Regions from separate parts of the Homo sapiens genome. Here regions 2, 3 and 4 are each reported to be linked to region 1. Evidence: microRNA targets listed by miRTarBase, many of them from high-throughput screens and not tested one by one. Region 1 holds a microRNA gene; each other region holds the end of a gene's coding sequence.

Region 1 (4,068 bases):
TTTAATACCTGTGCTCATATGTTATCTTTAAAGAACAGGAATAAAATTTATGGGTAGAATAGTATGCCAGCAATTTACCTTCAATACAAATTAAACACATCTTTTAAGAAAAGGGCGAGTTATATTGGCTGGGGTGGCACTAACACTACATTATTAATATGTATTTATTGAGCATTTACTGTGTCCAGGACCCTGTAAGGGGGAAAAAAAGTCCTTGTTTTTACAATCTTTATTGACTGAAATTCTGTAAAATGAATTGAATTCCTGAAGTGACATCATTTAACCCAAATTTTTTCATCATCAACTAATTCATCTCAGAAAACAGTAAAGTTTAAAAAAAAATACTATCAGTAAGAATAATATATTTCCTTGGTTTGGAAATTTCCAAACCACGATATTCTGCCCTGTCAAAATATATTCACTGGGGAATTTTTTACTTCATACGTTTCTTTTGAACTTAGTCACATTTTTATATCTAGCTGGTTTCATTATTAAATAAAAGAAAAGGTGATTCCCCTCTTGTACTGCAGGAGACCACATACTTGAATGATACTCTAACTTCTAGGTTCTGTTATAGTAACACTGAAATCAGAAACCTGTGGGAGAAATGTCACTTTATCTGAGAGAGTAAAATCAGACTCTAAAAGGAAGTAGCAAATTCATCTTGTTCTTTTTTTTAATCAACCCTCTGCCTAAGACAAGTAGTTTGAAACACAGAGGACTCTTTAAGTCATACTTCCTTTATGTAGTCAAAACCAAAGCCACTGGGTAGTGCTTTCCCCAAAGGAATCTCTAAATAGTAGACGGGGACATTTTCAGATAGATTCGTTTGTAGGCAAACCTCCATTGCTTGTATCACATTTCCTGAAAGAATAAAGGTAAAACTTCAACTATGTATTACAGAAAGAAAAATTCAGCCTGAACCCTACCCTTATAAAACAGGTTAATTGGGTTTTAATTTTCATAAATCATAAAGGACTATTTTGAACATTTGGGCCTTTAATTGTCTAGCTCCTAGATGAAGTACAAATCAGAAAAAAAAAAAACTGTACTGTGTCAGAATGCAAGCTTTCCTCTTTGCATTTTGGCATTTGAAAACTCCGAAGAGCGGTTTTTGTTTTTTATTTAAAGAAGATGATACATATGTGTACCCGATTCAAAACTAGAGAATAGAATTTAAAACATAATTTTCAAAGTCTTCAAATATGCCTAAAGGTAACAATGTCATCTTTTAATTGCCAATTTCTCTACCACTTTCAAAAAATTACTTCCAAGGATTTAATGAGCTCCTTCCTTTCAACAGAAAATGGACTATTTTCCTTTCAGATTTACTATATGCTGTCACTCCAGCTTTATAACCGCATGTGCATACACAAACATTTCTTTCTCTCTTGCAGGTGGCACAAACCAGGAAGGGGAAATCTGTGGTTTAAATTCTTTATGCCTCATCCTCTGAGTGCTGAAGGCTTGCTGTAGGCTGTATGCTGTTAATGCTAATCGTGATAGGGGTTTTTGCCTCCAACTGACTCCTACATATTAGCATTAACAGTGTATGATGCCTGTTACTAGCATTCACATGGAACAAATTGCTGCCGTGGGAGGATGACAAAGAAGCATGAGTCACCCTGCTGGATAAACTTAGACTTCAGGCTTTATCATTTTTCAATCTGTTAATCATAATCTGGTCACTGGGATGTTCAACCTTAAACTAAGTTTTGAAAGTAAGGTTATTTAAAAGATTTATCAGTAGTATCCTAAATGCAAACATTTTCATTTAAATGTCAAGCCCATGTTTGTTTTTATCATTAACAGAAAATATATTCATGTCATTCTTAATTGCAGGTTTTGGCTTGTTCATTATAATGTTCATAAACACCTTTGATTCAACTGTTAGAAATGTGGGCTAAACACAAATTTCTATAATATTTTTGTAGTTAAAAATTAGAAGGACTACTAACCTCCAGTTATATCATGGATTGTCTGGCAACGTTTTTTAAAAGATTTAGAAACTGGTACTTTCCCCCAGGTAACGATTTTCTGTTCAGGCAACTTCAGTTTAAAATTAATACTTTTATTTGACTCTTAAAGGGAAACTGAAAGGCTATGAAGCTGAATTTTTTTAATGAAATATTTTTAACAGTTAGCAGGGTAAATAACATCTGACAGCTAATGAGATATTTTTTCCATACAAGATAAAAAGATTTAATCAAAAAATTTCATATTTGAAATGAAGTCCCAAATCTAGGTTCAAGTTCAATAGCTTAGCCACATAATACGGTTGTGCGAGCAGAGAATCTACCTTTCCACTTCTAAGCCTGTTTCTTCCTCCATATGGGGATAATACTTTACAAGGTTGTTGTGAGGCTTAGATGAGATAGAGAATTATTCCATAAGATAATCAAGTGCTACATTAATGTTATAGTTAGATTAATCCAAGAACTAGTCACCCTACTTTATTAGAGAAGAGAAAAGCTAATGATTTGATTTGCAGAATATTTAAGGTTTGGATTTCTATGCAGTTTTTCTAAATAACCATCACTTACAAATATGTAACCAAACGTAATTGTTAGTATATTTAATGTAAACTTGTTTTAACAACTCTTCTCAACATTTTGTCCAGGTTATTCACTGTAACCAAATAAATCTCATGAGTCTTTAGTTGATTTAAAATAATTTTTATGGCCCATTTTCTTTTGCAAAGTACAAATTATAATTCCAGAAGCTATCTGCCAAAAAAAGACAATGGAAGAAAATTATGAGGACACTAAAGGGAACATTCCTGACTCCTAGGACACAGTATTCTCATGTAAGAATACCCATTTGGCTTTGCCCCACTTTCTGTTCAAGTTGTATGTGCTGCCAAGACAAATTTCTTCTCCTCACTTTCTGTTCAAGTTGTATGTGCTGCCAACACAAATTTCTTCTCCTAACACCTGGAATGAGCTTGTGGCTCCACGGAGCTCCCATGTAGGTAGAACACATTCAAGAGTGTTTCTTCAGGCCAGGCACAGTGGCTCACGCCTATAATTCCAACACTTTGGGAGGCCAAGGCGGGTGGTTCACTTGAGGTCAGGAGTTCTACACTACCCTGGCCAACATAGTGAAACCTCGTCTCTACTAAAAATACAAAAATTAGCTAGGCATGGTGGTGCGTGCCTGTAATCCCAGATACTCAGGAGGCTGGGGCAGAAGAATCACTTGAACCCAGGAGGTGGAGTTCACAGTGAACGAAGATCGTGCCACTGCCCTCCAGCCTGGGTGACAGAGTGAGACTCCATCTCAAAAAAAAAAAAAAGTGTCTGTTCAATTCATTTTATCTGCCACTGTATATCTACAAGAGGACTCCTTGCTTTGAGTCCCAGTTCTTCAAAATCCTGCTTGCTGCCTAAAGACACAAAGTCATAGAACATTAGGACTGGAATAAACTATTGTAGTATAACCTTCCTGCTGTTACAATAAAAAGCTATAAACATTACAAAGGCACTTAAAGAAAAGCTGTGCTGGGAAATGCCTTATTTGAAGAGCATTTGGGTACACTCACATGAAGCTTTGGAAAGTTACTTAATCTTCCTCTAAGCCTCAATTTCTTCATCAATAAAATGATGAATATATTTCATATTTCATAAGATGTAGGCTTAAATGAAATCATGCATGTGAAAAGCACAATGTCTATTATGCATTAAGTGTTAAACACAAACTTTCAAACTTTTACATTTCAGTCATTTAAATCAAATGATCTACCATAGCAGATCTCCCCAAAGACACTCTAGCTCCAAACTAACTATAATCAATCCCGTGGTGACGACCCAAAGAACCAGGGTTCCTGGGTTTTCTCTCACGCCCAGCCCACCTAGGCTTCTGACTGCCTATCTCCTCATCTTAGAGGGATTCCTCCTGACCAGTCATTACAAAAATTCTTGGAGCATGAGCAAGACTGAGTCTGTGTTTGGATTGGAGGAAGGGGTAAGTAACAAGGTATATATATGTATATGTGTGTGTGTGTGTGTGTGTGTGTGTGTGTGTGTGTGCGCGCGCGTTTGTGTTTAAGTTACAAACTAAGGATGGTTT
Region 2 (4,068 bases), not on the chromosome of region 1:
TTTTTTTTTTTTTTTTTTTTGAGATGGAGTTTCGCTCTTGTCTCCCAGGCTGGAGTGCAGTGGCACGATCTCAGCTCACTGCAACCTCCACCTCCTGGGTTCAAGCCATTCTCCTGCCTCAGCCTCCCGAGTAGCTAGGATTACAGGCGCCCGCCACCACGCCTGGCTAATTTTTGTATTTTTAGTAGAGACGGGGTTTCACCATATTGGCCAGGCCAGTCTCGAACTCTCGAACTCACCTCAGGTGATCTGCCCACCTCAGCCTCCCAGAGTGCTGGGATTACAGGTGTGAGCTATGGTGCCCAGCCATTGAGCTTTGATCATGCCACTGCAATCCAGCCTAGACAGCAGAGCAAGACTCTGTCTCAAAAACAACAACAAAAAACATTATTTGGAAGTCCCTATATGTGTCAAATATTGAGCTTTCTGGCACATAAGTTGATAATACTGACTTTGTTTTATAAACAGGGTTTGTGATAAGCATGTTGTGAACACTTCTGGGCCAGTTAAATGGTAAAGACCACAAAGCATTTTTATTTATGAGAAGACATCCTACAATACAATGAATTAACATACCCACTTTTTTTTTCCAGATACAGTTTATGTAACTTGATGGAAGAAAATGGAATTACTCCAAAAAGACAAGTGCTCAAGCAGCAAAATCCTTACTTCCAGCAAAATCCAAACTGCTGTCTCTTAAATCTCTTAAACTCTCTTCTTCCATTAGAATGCTACAAGTAACTCAGTGAAGGCCCATGAAGGAAATTGGGACTAGTTTATAGGAGAACGTATCAATACAGTTTATAAAGCCAAGAATTGCTATGATTTAAGACTAAGATCTGTCTTTTTGGTGACTAACCCTTCAATTCTTTCAACTCCTGTTAATACCCATAATCAGTAACCTATCAAGAAAAGCCCTTATTTGGAAAGTGTGAAATTTGTATTTGGAAAAGCTGCCTGGAGAGAAGAACTGTGTCCTTTACTGTATTTCAACAGGACTCTTTTGGGGGATCAAAATTAAAATTCCTAATTATGCATTATCTTTCTTTTCTCCAGTCCTCACAAATACAGAAACAATAACTGAAATTAACTTTTCTTTTTTTAAAAAAAATTATATTCAGTTTGCAGTAGACATTCCTTAAGTATTTGTATTTATTTATGATTATCAATTTTACATAACATTAATATTGTATCAGACCTCCTTATGAAAATGAGTATGGATGTGCACAGTATGTTTGATTTTTATCCACAAGAATGAATCTGATTCAGAATGCTTTTCTCAGCTGACATACAGAGCACTAAATATTTTAAGGCAAGTCCATAGGTCTGAATCTCTTAAGAATTCTCGGCCTCTGTGGGATTTAGGGAAGCATTATAAATGCATTAATCCTTATAGTCAATTCTGTGCCTAGGATTTTGCCAGGGAACAGTTCACTGACTAGGAAAAGCACTACATTTTAAATTCAGCATTAGTGCATTGGGAAGGATCTTTACTGCTTTGTGCTTGGCATGTCATTATTTTCCATTTGACATTAGGGCCTTTCCAAAATGAATGTGAGGAATTGCTTTCACTTCAAGACTTTCCTTCTTTTCACTAAAACTCTAGAAGGTGTTACAAGGGGGAGGGAAGGGGGGCAAAGTCCTTGAACATTTTCTTTGGCTCGTGCCATGTTATGATCATATACCTTTTAAATAAGGGGAAATAGTATCTTTAAAGTTAATGTCTAGCCAAGAGTTTAGTAAACGAAGAATTAAACTGCACTGTTGATCGGTGCTTTGTGTAAATACATCTTTAACATTTGGGTGGAGAGGGGCCTTAAGAAGGACAGTTCATTGTAGGAAAGCAATTCTGTACATGAGTTTAAGCATTCTTGTTGCATTGTCTCTGCAGATTCTATTTTTGTTTACAATATTAAAATGTATGTTAGCAAAATGGGTGGATTTTCAAATAAAATGCAGCTTCCACAAAAGTTTTGTTATGGTATTCTGGTCTGAGATGCATTTTCATTTTTCCTTTCTCTTTTTATTATCAATATTGTCATTTTTCCCTAATAAAATATACCCAGGTGATTATATTTGTTGATCTAATAACATGGAAGGTTTGTTTTATATGAATTTTCAAAAAGATGTCTCTTTACACTTTTTGTTACCTTGTAGACTCTTATTGATAAATGCAACTACTTATTAAAATTGTTCACTTTTTGTCTTTTGATCAGATGCCTTTAGTCAGGTAAGTTTAAGGGAAAATACGCAGTTTAATGTTTTGGTACATATAATTATGTCTGCCAAAGAAACCTTTGATTGTATCATATTGCCTATTTAGTAGTGCATAGGGTTCAGAGTACATGATAAAGGATCAAAAGCTTTGCATTGATAAGTGTCTCATAATATTTGCTGTGATTGGAGAAAAAATGTAGTCGTAGCCAATAAATTTTATCAGCTTTTAAGTTTCAGTATTATTAAACCATTTTCATATAAACTGGGAAGTTGTACTTTTATAAGTTACCCTCCTTAACTTTACAAATTTTTGTCTCTTGTGGTGTTTGAGGAGGTGTTTATATTTAAGGTCTGTGGCTTGTTTTCTTTCATATTGCCTTTTTTTTTTTAAGTATGTTTCAGTATGTGACGTGCTTCATAGCCATTTTTATTTCATTGTTTAAACAACTTTTGGGCTATGTTTGATAAGTGTTATCCATATTTTACCCATTTTATATGTAGGAATCAGAAATCAGAAAAGGAGCTGGGTGCAGTGGCTCACACCTGTTATTCCAGTAATTTGGGAGGCTGAGGTACATGATCACTTGAGCCCAGGAGTTCAAGACCAGCCTGGGCAACATGGTGAAACGCTATCTGTACCAAAAATACAAAAATTAGCCAGGTATATGCCTATAGTCCCAGCTACTTGGGAGACTGAAGTGGTAGGATCACCCGAGTCCAGGATGTTGAGGCTGCAGTGAGCTGGGATCATGCCACTGCATACTCCACCCTGGGTGACAGAGTGAGACCCTGTTTAAAAAAAAAAGGAACTTGCCCAGATGAGTAAGTTAACAGATGGAAATCAAATCTTTGCTTTCATGGTCCATTGTTCTCTCTGTGACCTGCTGTCACGTAATTCATATATATATACTGACATGGAGATTGTTTCCCTCTGCAATCTAGACTGATGGCCACTCTTTATTCCCAGTGGTCTTTAGTGAAGTACATTTCCTGCCTCCTCCTCTGATGCCCAGACATCGTTGACAAGGAAGAATGCAAACATGCGACAAGAGCAACTTTAACCAAAATATAATGAGTGAAGTAAATCAGCTATTGATTACATAATTACATCAGGCTGTAAACTCATACATGCTCATGTCATTTTACTATCCAGTTAGCAAGTAGCTATTGGCTGAGATAAGAGAGAAGATTGTAAGCAGAGGACAACTGTACCTGTCCCAAATCGTTTTCAAAATTATTTGCCTTTGATTTAACATCTATCAGCATTCAGCATTTTTTAAAAGGTATCCCTTTCTTAACAAGTGACTATGAGAATACATATTTAGGAAGAGGACTTCCTTATGTTAGCCTAGGAATCTTCTGCTTTTCCAGAAGCCAACAAAATGTGACTTATGAGAAATAGGCCTTAATGGGATGTTTTTCTTGAACTAAAAATAATTTCAAGGTTCTTCTCATTTATCGTAACTCACAAACACGCTTCCAAACTCTGTTTGCTTATTCTACAAAATTCCACAGAGAAAAAAAATCTCTCTTAAGAGTGAGTGTGGCTCCTGTGTGCTAGCAGTGACTAGGTCACAATGTATGGAGACACCACAGTAGTAAGCCAGATGAATTTATTCTTGCCTTCCAGGAAAGATATTTCACAGCTTTCATCAGTGGCCTCTGCAGTCAGCTTAGATCTTTGTTCTGCCACACTTGCTGCCTTCCATGGGTGTGACTAGCCCTTCTGGAATTCTGCTGTCTGAAGTTTCGGAAAAGAAAGGCTGCATTATCATCCATGCTGTCTCTTGCTGAAAACATTAAGCTGATTTCTTGCTGTTACTAAGAAGTAATGTCCTATTTGAAGTATCA
Region 3 (4,068 bases), not on the chromosome of region 1:
AGCACTTTGGGAGACCAAGGTGAGTGGATCGCTTGAGCTCAAGACTTTGAGAGCAGCCTAGGCAACATAGTGAAACTAAAAATACAAAAATTAGCTGGGTATGGTGGTACATGCCTGTAGTCCCAGCTACTCAGGAGGCTGAGGTGGGAGAATCACTTGAACCCAGGAGGTGGAGGCTGCAGTGAGCTGAGATTGTGCCACTGCACTCCAGCCTGGGTGAGAGTGACACCCTGTCTCAAAAAAAAGAACTGAGAATTCGGTTGCTGTCAGAGAAAGGTGCCACAAACATGGGAAGAGCCAAAATAAACCCTGTGGAACAAGACTGTAACTGGAGCTATCGATGTCAACTTATGGTTTCTTATACAGAGAAATGTCAAAAATATCAAGCTCATGAAAGACAAACACTGAGGAACTGTTCCATATTGAAGCTAAAGCAACATGGCGACACACACAAGTAATCTTGGACTGCATAGACCTATAAAGGAAACTGGAACAACTGATGAAATCTGAATGGGATCTTATGAAATTGAATGGTAATTTCTTGATTGTGATTATATTACAGGGTATATAGGCATGTATCCTTATTTTTAGAAAATATACACTGAGGTTTATATACTAAGTGGGTGATGAAGCATCGTATCTTCAACCTACTCTTCAATAGTTCAGGAAATAAAAATAGTATACATATGTAGTGTGCATGAAAATGATAGGGTAAATGTGCTAAATGCTGACAACTGGGGAATCTGGAAAGGGAAATACAGGCATTATTTATGCTATCATGGCAAATAATGAAATTTTTAAATGAAGATTTTTAAAAAGGACATTTTTGGCCAGGCACGGTGGCTCATACCTGTAATCCCAGCACTTTGGGAGACTGAGGTGCGCAGCTCACGAGGTCAGGAGATCGAGACCATCCTGGCCAACATGGTGAAACCCCATCTCTACTAAACATACAAAAATTAGCTGGGTGTAGTGGCGCTGCCTATAATCCTAGCTACTTGGGAGGCTGAGGCAGGAGAATCGCTTGAACCAGGGAGTCGGAGGTTGCAGCGAGCCGAGATCACACCGCTGCACTCCAGCCTGACAACAGCGCAAGACTCCGTCTCAAAAAAAAAAAAAAAAAAAAAAAAGGACATTATTTATATTATACAACAAATTCCAAATGAAAAAAAGGTCAGAGAATTGTATGTTATTCTTTGTGAGGGCGGATGGTGAGAGTATGGACACGTGAGTTTTTTGATTATATTCTTCTATATGCAGAGTGCCTCTAGAAACATATGCAAGGAACTGATCTACATCCATTTCTTCCACAGTTGAAAAACGGGTGGCTAGAGAATAACAACACTTTTTACTCTCCGAAACTTAATTATGCACTATATGAAATGTAGTAACTTAAAATATAAAACAAAATGCTTTAATTTAGTGGTTGCCAAATGCAATGCCAGACTGGCAACCTTAGAACCACCTGGGAAACATTTAAAAATAAATTAATAGGCCTCAATTCCCAAAATTTATTTCAGTAAGCCCAGGGTAGGACTCAGGTATCAGTAAAATTTCCCCAGTTAATTTCCTCAGCCTACTCAACATGAAGATAAGAATAAAGAACTTGATTATGATCCAGGCCAGGTGCAGTGGCTCACGCCTGTAGTGCCAGCACTTTGGGAGGCCGAGGAGGGTGGACTGCTTGAGGGCAGGAGTTTGAGACCAGCCTAGCCAACATGACAAAACCTCATTTCTACTAAAAATACAAAACTCAGCTGGGCGTGGTGGCGGGTGCCTGTAATCCCAGCTACTCGAGTGGCTGAGGGAGGAGAATTGCTTGAACCCAGGAGGCGGAGGTTGCAGTGAGCTGAGAATGCACCACTGTACCCCAGCCTATGCGACAGAGCGAGACCTTGTCTAAAAAAAAAAAAAAAAAACTTTATGATAATCTACTTCCACTTAATGAATAGTAAATATATTTTCCCTTCCTTGAGATTTTCTTAATAATATTTTCTTTTCTCTAGGCTACTTTAAGAATACAGTATGTAATACACAGAAGATAGAAATATGTTAAATGACTATGTTTATCAGTAAGGCTTCTGGTCAACAGCAGGTTTTTACTAATTAAGTATTTGGGGAGTCCAGAGTTATAGTGGATTTTAGACTGTGCAAGGTTGATACCCCAAACCCACACCGTTCAAGGGTCAACTGTATAATGTAACAAGATTATATAGCTATTAATTTTTAGTTAAAAACAAATCCGTTCCCACAAATAGATACAGTAACTGTAACATTCTAGGATGGGGTGGTAAGTTAACATTCTGGATCAAGTGTTAATTTTATTGTGTTTTATTTCAATACATATTAAACTATATTCTTTTGTATGTATCACATGTTACATCAGAAGAATGTAATTTTTAAAAATTAAAGCAACAAAAGAACAATTAGTTTAGAAGTTTGGTCCTTACATTTAAAAAAAGAAGTAAATACAAGAAAACTAAGCATTACATGCCAGCAGTACATATTTATTATTATTCATGAATGGTGAAAAGACTTACAAGGCCCATTATTATGAGTATAACCACACATATGAAATATCACTTAGCGGCAACATGGGATGAAAAGGACAGTTATATATTTATATTAAAAAAATACACGTTTGCATTCAATGTTTGCCTAGAAAAAAAATACATGTACACACGCTCTTTCAAGTGCTCCCCATAAACTGCTATAAAAGCAGGAGGCATCAAGCTGTAGAAGTTCCAATATACATAACATGTTGAAATATCTCAAGCATAAAAACTGTACGTAACTTGCAAAAATAAAGTTCCTTTCTTCAAACATTTTGATCTGAGCTCAGGCAAAGCAAATAATGAACACCAATGATTTTTATACTATTTCACACAATTTAAAATAATCAACATGAAAAGGTCAACAGCTTCAAAAATCCTGAAAATATGGAGGTTACGAGAATGAACAATTTCATCTGAAAAGTCTACAGCAGATCTGCTTCATCCTGACTCTCAAATATTTAAGGATCATAATTTACTATACTCAAACTCCAAGTTTAGCCAGGACAAACAAAATGATAAAAAGAAAAATTACTGCAAACAGGGCATGACTGCCCTTTAGTTTCTTTAGACAATTTCACTAGTGCAAGAGCATCATTTACCTGAAAGATCCTAAGAGTCACAATTAAAGTACTCATACAAAACTATTTCCTTTGTTCTTTAAAAAGTGCCACATACTATACTTTTCATTTAAAAAAAAAAAAGAACCCAACACAAATAAACTAATGAAAGACCGTTTGTCTCCATCTCTTGTCAATGAGGAAAGGCCAAAGTGATTCTTTGATTCCAATTCGAAATGGTGTTCGTTGGCCAATGCCCAAGGTCTCCAATTTGGAGCAGTCAAGCTGAGCATTTCTCGGACGTTGTGCTCCTAGGACAGGGCTGTCAGTAATCTTTAAAGAAAGATAAACACAAAAAAATCAAAAGTAAGTGAAAGGCTATATTTTGAGGGCTTTGTTCCCCCTGACCTTTTTTTAAATATGTATATATTTTTAAACAGAGATGAGATCTCCCTCCATTGCCCAGGCTAGTCTCAAATTCCTGGGCTCAAGGGATCCTCCTGCGTCAGCCTCCCAAAGTGTTGGGATTACAGGCATGAGCCATTGTGCCTGGCCATTTTGAGGTTTTATATTTGCTACTTATTTTTGCTCTTAGTGTAAGAAATCTGATTTGATCATCCCTGGAAAAATAAACCAAATGCCTGTCATGATCAAGACAATAATACATTTTCTACAAACTTCAATACTCATGATCTTCTCTACAGATGATAATTTAGAGAAAAGTAGCACTATGAACAGCCAGCATACAAGCAAAGTTCACTTTGATTAGTACTGAGAAATGAAGTTACCCAACACAGCAATAATATATACCATAGCAATGGATCTAAAGGTTTTTACAGCCATGTACTTACAGGTCTTAAGTGACTGCTGGGGAGGTTGAAGGCATCTGCAATTGCACATGCCATTTCATACTTAGTCATCTGTTCATTGCCAGACCAGTGAAAGGTTCCCTTAAT
Region 4 (4,068 bases), not on the chromosome of region 1:
CATCTCAAAAAACCCCCACCTCCGCTTCCAGCATGCTTGAACTTGAGACAGGGCTTCATGTAACTCCTTCTCCTTCAGAGAGCAGTAGCAGCAGAGCAGTCTCTCCCTTTGCCAAGATTCGAAGTTCCATGGTCCAGGTTGCTAGTATTACCCAAGCTGGATTAACCCATGGGATAAACTTTGCAGTGTCAAAAGTTCAGAAGAGTCCTCCAGAACCTGAAATCATTAATCAAGTCCAGCAAAATGAACTTAAAAAGATGTTTATACAATGCCAGACACGGATAATTCAGATTTAGCTTTTAGCCATAAGAATCCTTCCATGGCTTTTATTTAAAAATATGAAATTTTCACCTCTTGGGGTATTTTAATTGTACTGTCTGAACCCAGGGATCACAAATTCTGTTCATTGGAAAGGGTTTTAAACGGAGTCGGAACCTGAGTAGATTTCCAAATTTTACAGCCAGGACTACAGAAGTGCATCATTCTAGAATGTGTAGACCTGAGTAGCTTATACACTACAGAGCACTTTGCTTATTTGAAAGTAATTCAGCAACAGGTCACTTTGGGATATAACCTGAACCTTTTTTTGGAGTGGGGTGGGTAGACTACAGTAGACACAAGGGCTGGACATGCAGATGCTTAGGGGATTAGCGTTTTTCATAATTTGTTCTGTTTGTCAGTTCATTCCTGTGTGTTCTTACCTCTACAAAGTAAATTACACATTTAGTTTTTAGTGACTTTAACATGTTACTGAAGCATTTGAATATAAAGCTATTTTAGTTTTGATGGCTTAACTGTTCCCTGAGGAGTTGAGGGTTATTGACACTAGAGAAATGAATTCTCATTTGATCCTAATTTTCCCCGTATTCTACTTGAACACATTAAAAATACTCTGCTGCCTATACAATGTAAACCTAGGAGCATTAAGACTTGTCACACAGTAAACCTGATACATCAGAGGTGAATACCAGCACCTATTAGGTTTCATTTTGCTGTTTTCAGGAATGTAAGAACACCCATATTGGCTACTGGAAATTCTAGAAGTCAGTCAGGTTTTAATTTATTCCAGGAGGGGCATCCTCGACATCTTATGTAGATGATCCACAACTTCAAAATTTAGTCTGGGCCTAGTGCAGTGGCTCACACCTATAATCCCAACACTTTGGGAGGCCAGGAGTTTTGAGACCAGCCTGGGAAACATCTGTCTCTACAAAAAAATACAAAAATTAGCTGGGCATAGTGGTGCATGCCTGTGTTTCTAGCTACGCAGGAGGATTGCTTGAGCCCATGAGATTGAGGCTGCAGTGAGCTGTGATCGTGCCACTGACCTCCAGCCTGGGGGACAGAGCAAGACCGTGTCTCAAAAACAATTTAGTCTGAAACACAATTGTGCTGAATCTGTCTGACTATAACTCTGACCACACAGAACCAGGGCTGCCCCTGTAATCCCCACAGTAAGAAAGTTGTATGGCATATTCCAACAAGTATTGGTTCGTCTGGTGTCTTTAGAGCTTTACTCTGTTGAAGTGACTGATTCTCAACTGAACATTATGTCGTTACTTTGATAAGCATTCCACTTTTGTTATTTATTAGTGCTATCTTTTTTTTTTACGTGTTAAATCTTGTGATTATTAAAATAAAGTACCATTGTAATTTAAAGTGACAAATGGGTATGAGAATTCCTTGCATAACAGATTAAAGAATTTGTAAACGGCAGATTTGCTATAACTGAACACTTGGTCTAGCTGTTGCCAGTATGTTACTCCTTTGAAATATACTCATGATGTAAAAAGGGAAATGGATCAGAAACTATACTTTAAATCCAAACATTCAAAACTGAATGCTTGCTTCTACCAACTTTTCTTCCGGGTCCTGAAAATATTAAGGGTTCCCAACATGGGAGAAAATACAACCCAACATTAGGTGATAAAATACACGTTTAAACTCTACAGAAATTAGTTCGAAAGAGATCTTTGAAAAATCATTTTAAGAAGGCAAAGTTCCAAACAGGGTTACACAGGAGTCTACTCAGTTTCCTGGCCATACAGGATTAACGCTGTGCCTTACGTTAGAGCAACAAACTTGACTGTCCGTGTATATATAGGTGAGGGACAAAGGGTTTCTGCAGCCAAGCACTGCACTCCATTCCGCTGCCTGGGCGGGCCTTGAGCAGGAAGGTCCCTCTTGCACCACCTCCTCCACTTCAGTTCAGCTCTCTCATGTCTTCCACCAAGAGGACATGGTCTTTTTCCACACAGATCACATGGGATGGTGAATCTTCTTACTCATGAAAAACAGCCCAAGGTACTGCTAATTTGGGACGTTTTATTTATTGGAAAGGTTCTTTCAAGGGAACTTTTCTGCAAGACCAAGCAATGTATGTATTTTTCTTTGGTAAATTACAATTTACATTGGCACAAAAAACACATGGTGACTAATGTACTTTGCTCTAGGACAATTAAAGAAAATGTATTTTATCCTCACAAATCCAGTGAAGCCTTCATTTTATTTCTAAAAGTTTAAGGAAGGTCTAGTCTACCAGTTATAAAAATGAAAACCAGTTCAACTCTAATATAAACATTATTTACATTTGTTTATAAAAATAGATTTGAGTTTAGGAAAAGTTGAACAACTAGTTATTTTTACTTCAGTTATTAGGTACAATGAATTCCTTGATTTTTCAAGGCTGACCCTGTTTCCTTGGTTAACAATTTCAATTTAGGCCTTATAGGAAAAAACGTAAGGGATCCTTTATCTGCCTCCAACTAGGTAAGTTATTTGATACCACTGACAGCTTAAAAAGTAATGTCCTAACCTTTCTGAAGATTCTGGTTGCCATAACCATGCTACTACAGTCTGTTGTTAGTTTGCTCTATTAAAACTAATTGGTCTGGAGAAAACCTACCTGCAGTTGTACGAGGCTGTTACTGGAGTAGCAGATGTTAGCTGATCTAACATACTTGGAACCAACTGATGATCCCATAAAAAATGCCAAAAATCCAATAGAATCAAAGCAACTCAATGACATTTAAGAAAATAAAAACTTTCTAAAGGGGGTATTGCTTTTTAAGTTTCCTATTTTGTTTTCATATTTGGGCACAGCTTTGTAGCACAGCATTCCCTTATGCATGGTTCTCAAATGCACTGGGATAGGAGAAAATAAAGACAATGTAGTGTCTTGGTTTCTTTTGCCCCCAAAAGCCACATTCATTCCGTTTAAAGGACTCCTCTTATTCAGAGATAGATTGTCCTTTCCTTTTATGAAAAAAATGGTGATAATACAGTGATTTATTCGGATTACTTGGCAAGGTAAATTGGCAACCTTATAGTACCCCAGATTTTTGGAAATATTACTACCGGTCCATAAAATACAAAAGTCTGGGAACCACTGCCATGTACAAGTTTAGTTTTGCAGGCTGTTAACAAATGTTAAGTGGGAAAAAGTTTCTGTGGCCAAACATCTGGGAAATGACAGTACAGAATTTCATGTAGTCATGTGAATCAATGGCAAGTACGCCTCCGTTCCCCAAAGATGGACTACTGAATGCACCCCAACCCACTGTGAACTGGAAAAACAGAGAACTAGAAAACATAAGAAATCCGAAGCACGATTCCTCTGACTTTGAAACTGCAACAACCTTCTTCATTTCAGCATTTCAACAGTCTGGCCTATGACTCAGCTGAAGCTAAGGAAATGGTACAATCAGCAACATTATCAATATTAAACTTTTAATATCAAATACTTTTTTTACATCATTACTAATTTATATAATTATTATAAAACAAACTTCAAAAGCTCCATGAAATCAGTAAGGTAAAAGTCCTTACTGAATATCATATAAACATCAGGTGTTACCAGGCTTGATTTCAGGAAATGTCACTGGTTTGTGATAGAAATTACCTATAAAACAATGTGGTATAAATGAATATCTGAATTTTACAATTATGTGGCTACAGTTTGCCCATTACTCTTCATAGGTATTACATCTTTAAAGTTCATTTCCATTCACACATTTTTGCTGCTGAAGCCTCGTTCTTCTTAAAGACTCTAGCTGCTTTGCTCTCAGC

The links. The annotated mature microRNA hsa-miR-155-5p reads UUAAUGCUAAUCGUGAUAGGGGUU and lies in region 1 at 1,488-1,511, shown strand. An mRNA with a match to its seed (bases 2 to 7 or 8) in the 3' UTR can be bound and repressed. Matches are read on the target gene's strand: a 7mer-m8 pairs with bases 2 to 8, a 7mer-A1 pairs with bases 2 to 7 and ends in A, and an 8mer does both.
Region 2: miRTarBase lists PICALM as a target of hsa-miR-155-5p. Seed matches in the 3' UTR shown: 7mer-m8 at 1,369-1,375, 7mer-A1 at 1,381-1,387 and 7mer-m8 at 1,466-1,472.
Region 3: the mRNA of MAT2B is a reported target of hsa-miR-155-5p. The part of its 3' UTR that is shown has no 7-base or 8-base seed match.
Region 4: miRTarBase lists INPP5F as a target of hsa-miR-155-5p. Seed matches in the 3' UTR shown: 8mer at 920-927.

Annotation. Positions count from the first base shown.
Region 1 is chr21:25,572,496-25,576,563 of GRCh38, forward strand. MIR155 (microRNA 155) reads left to right here and starts at 1,485; the gene lies at 1,485-1,549. MIR155HG (MIR155 host gene) reads left to right here. Exons shown (of 3, transcript NR_001458.3): 3 at 1,398-2,673. RefSeq lists a silencer at 1,429-1,608 and enhancers at 3,160-3,309, 3,702-3,751.
Region 2 is chr11:85,955,586-85,959,653 of GRCh38, reverse strand. PICALM (phosphatidylinositol binding clathrin assembly protein) reads left to right here. Exons shown (of 20, transcript NM_007166.4): 20 at 594-2,479. The coding sequence ends at 608. Among named protein-coding and RNA genes, the nearest start is that of CCDC83, 100 kb to the right of the region's middle.
Region 3 is chr5:163,517,570-163,521,637 of GRCh38, reverse strand. MAT2B (methionine adenosyltransferase 2 non-catalytic beta subunit) reads right to left here. Exons shown (of 7, transcript NM_013283.5): 6 at 3,964-4,068; 7 at 2,284-3,445. The coding sequence ends at 3,275. Among named protein-coding and RNA genes, the nearest start is that of MAT2B, 14 kb to the right of the region's middle.
Region 4 is chr10:119,827,485-119,831,552 of GRCh38, forward strand. It overlaps INPP5F (inositol polyphosphate-5-phosphatase F), which reads left to right. Exons shown (of 20, transcript NM_014937.4): 20 at 1-1,663. The coding sequence ends at 296. MCMBP (minichromosome maintenance complex binding protein) reads right to left here. Exons shown (of 16, transcript NM_001256378.2): 16 at 1,956-4,068. The coding sequence ends at 3,990. Among named protein-coding and RNA genes, the nearest start is that of MCMBP, 43 kb to the right of the region's middle.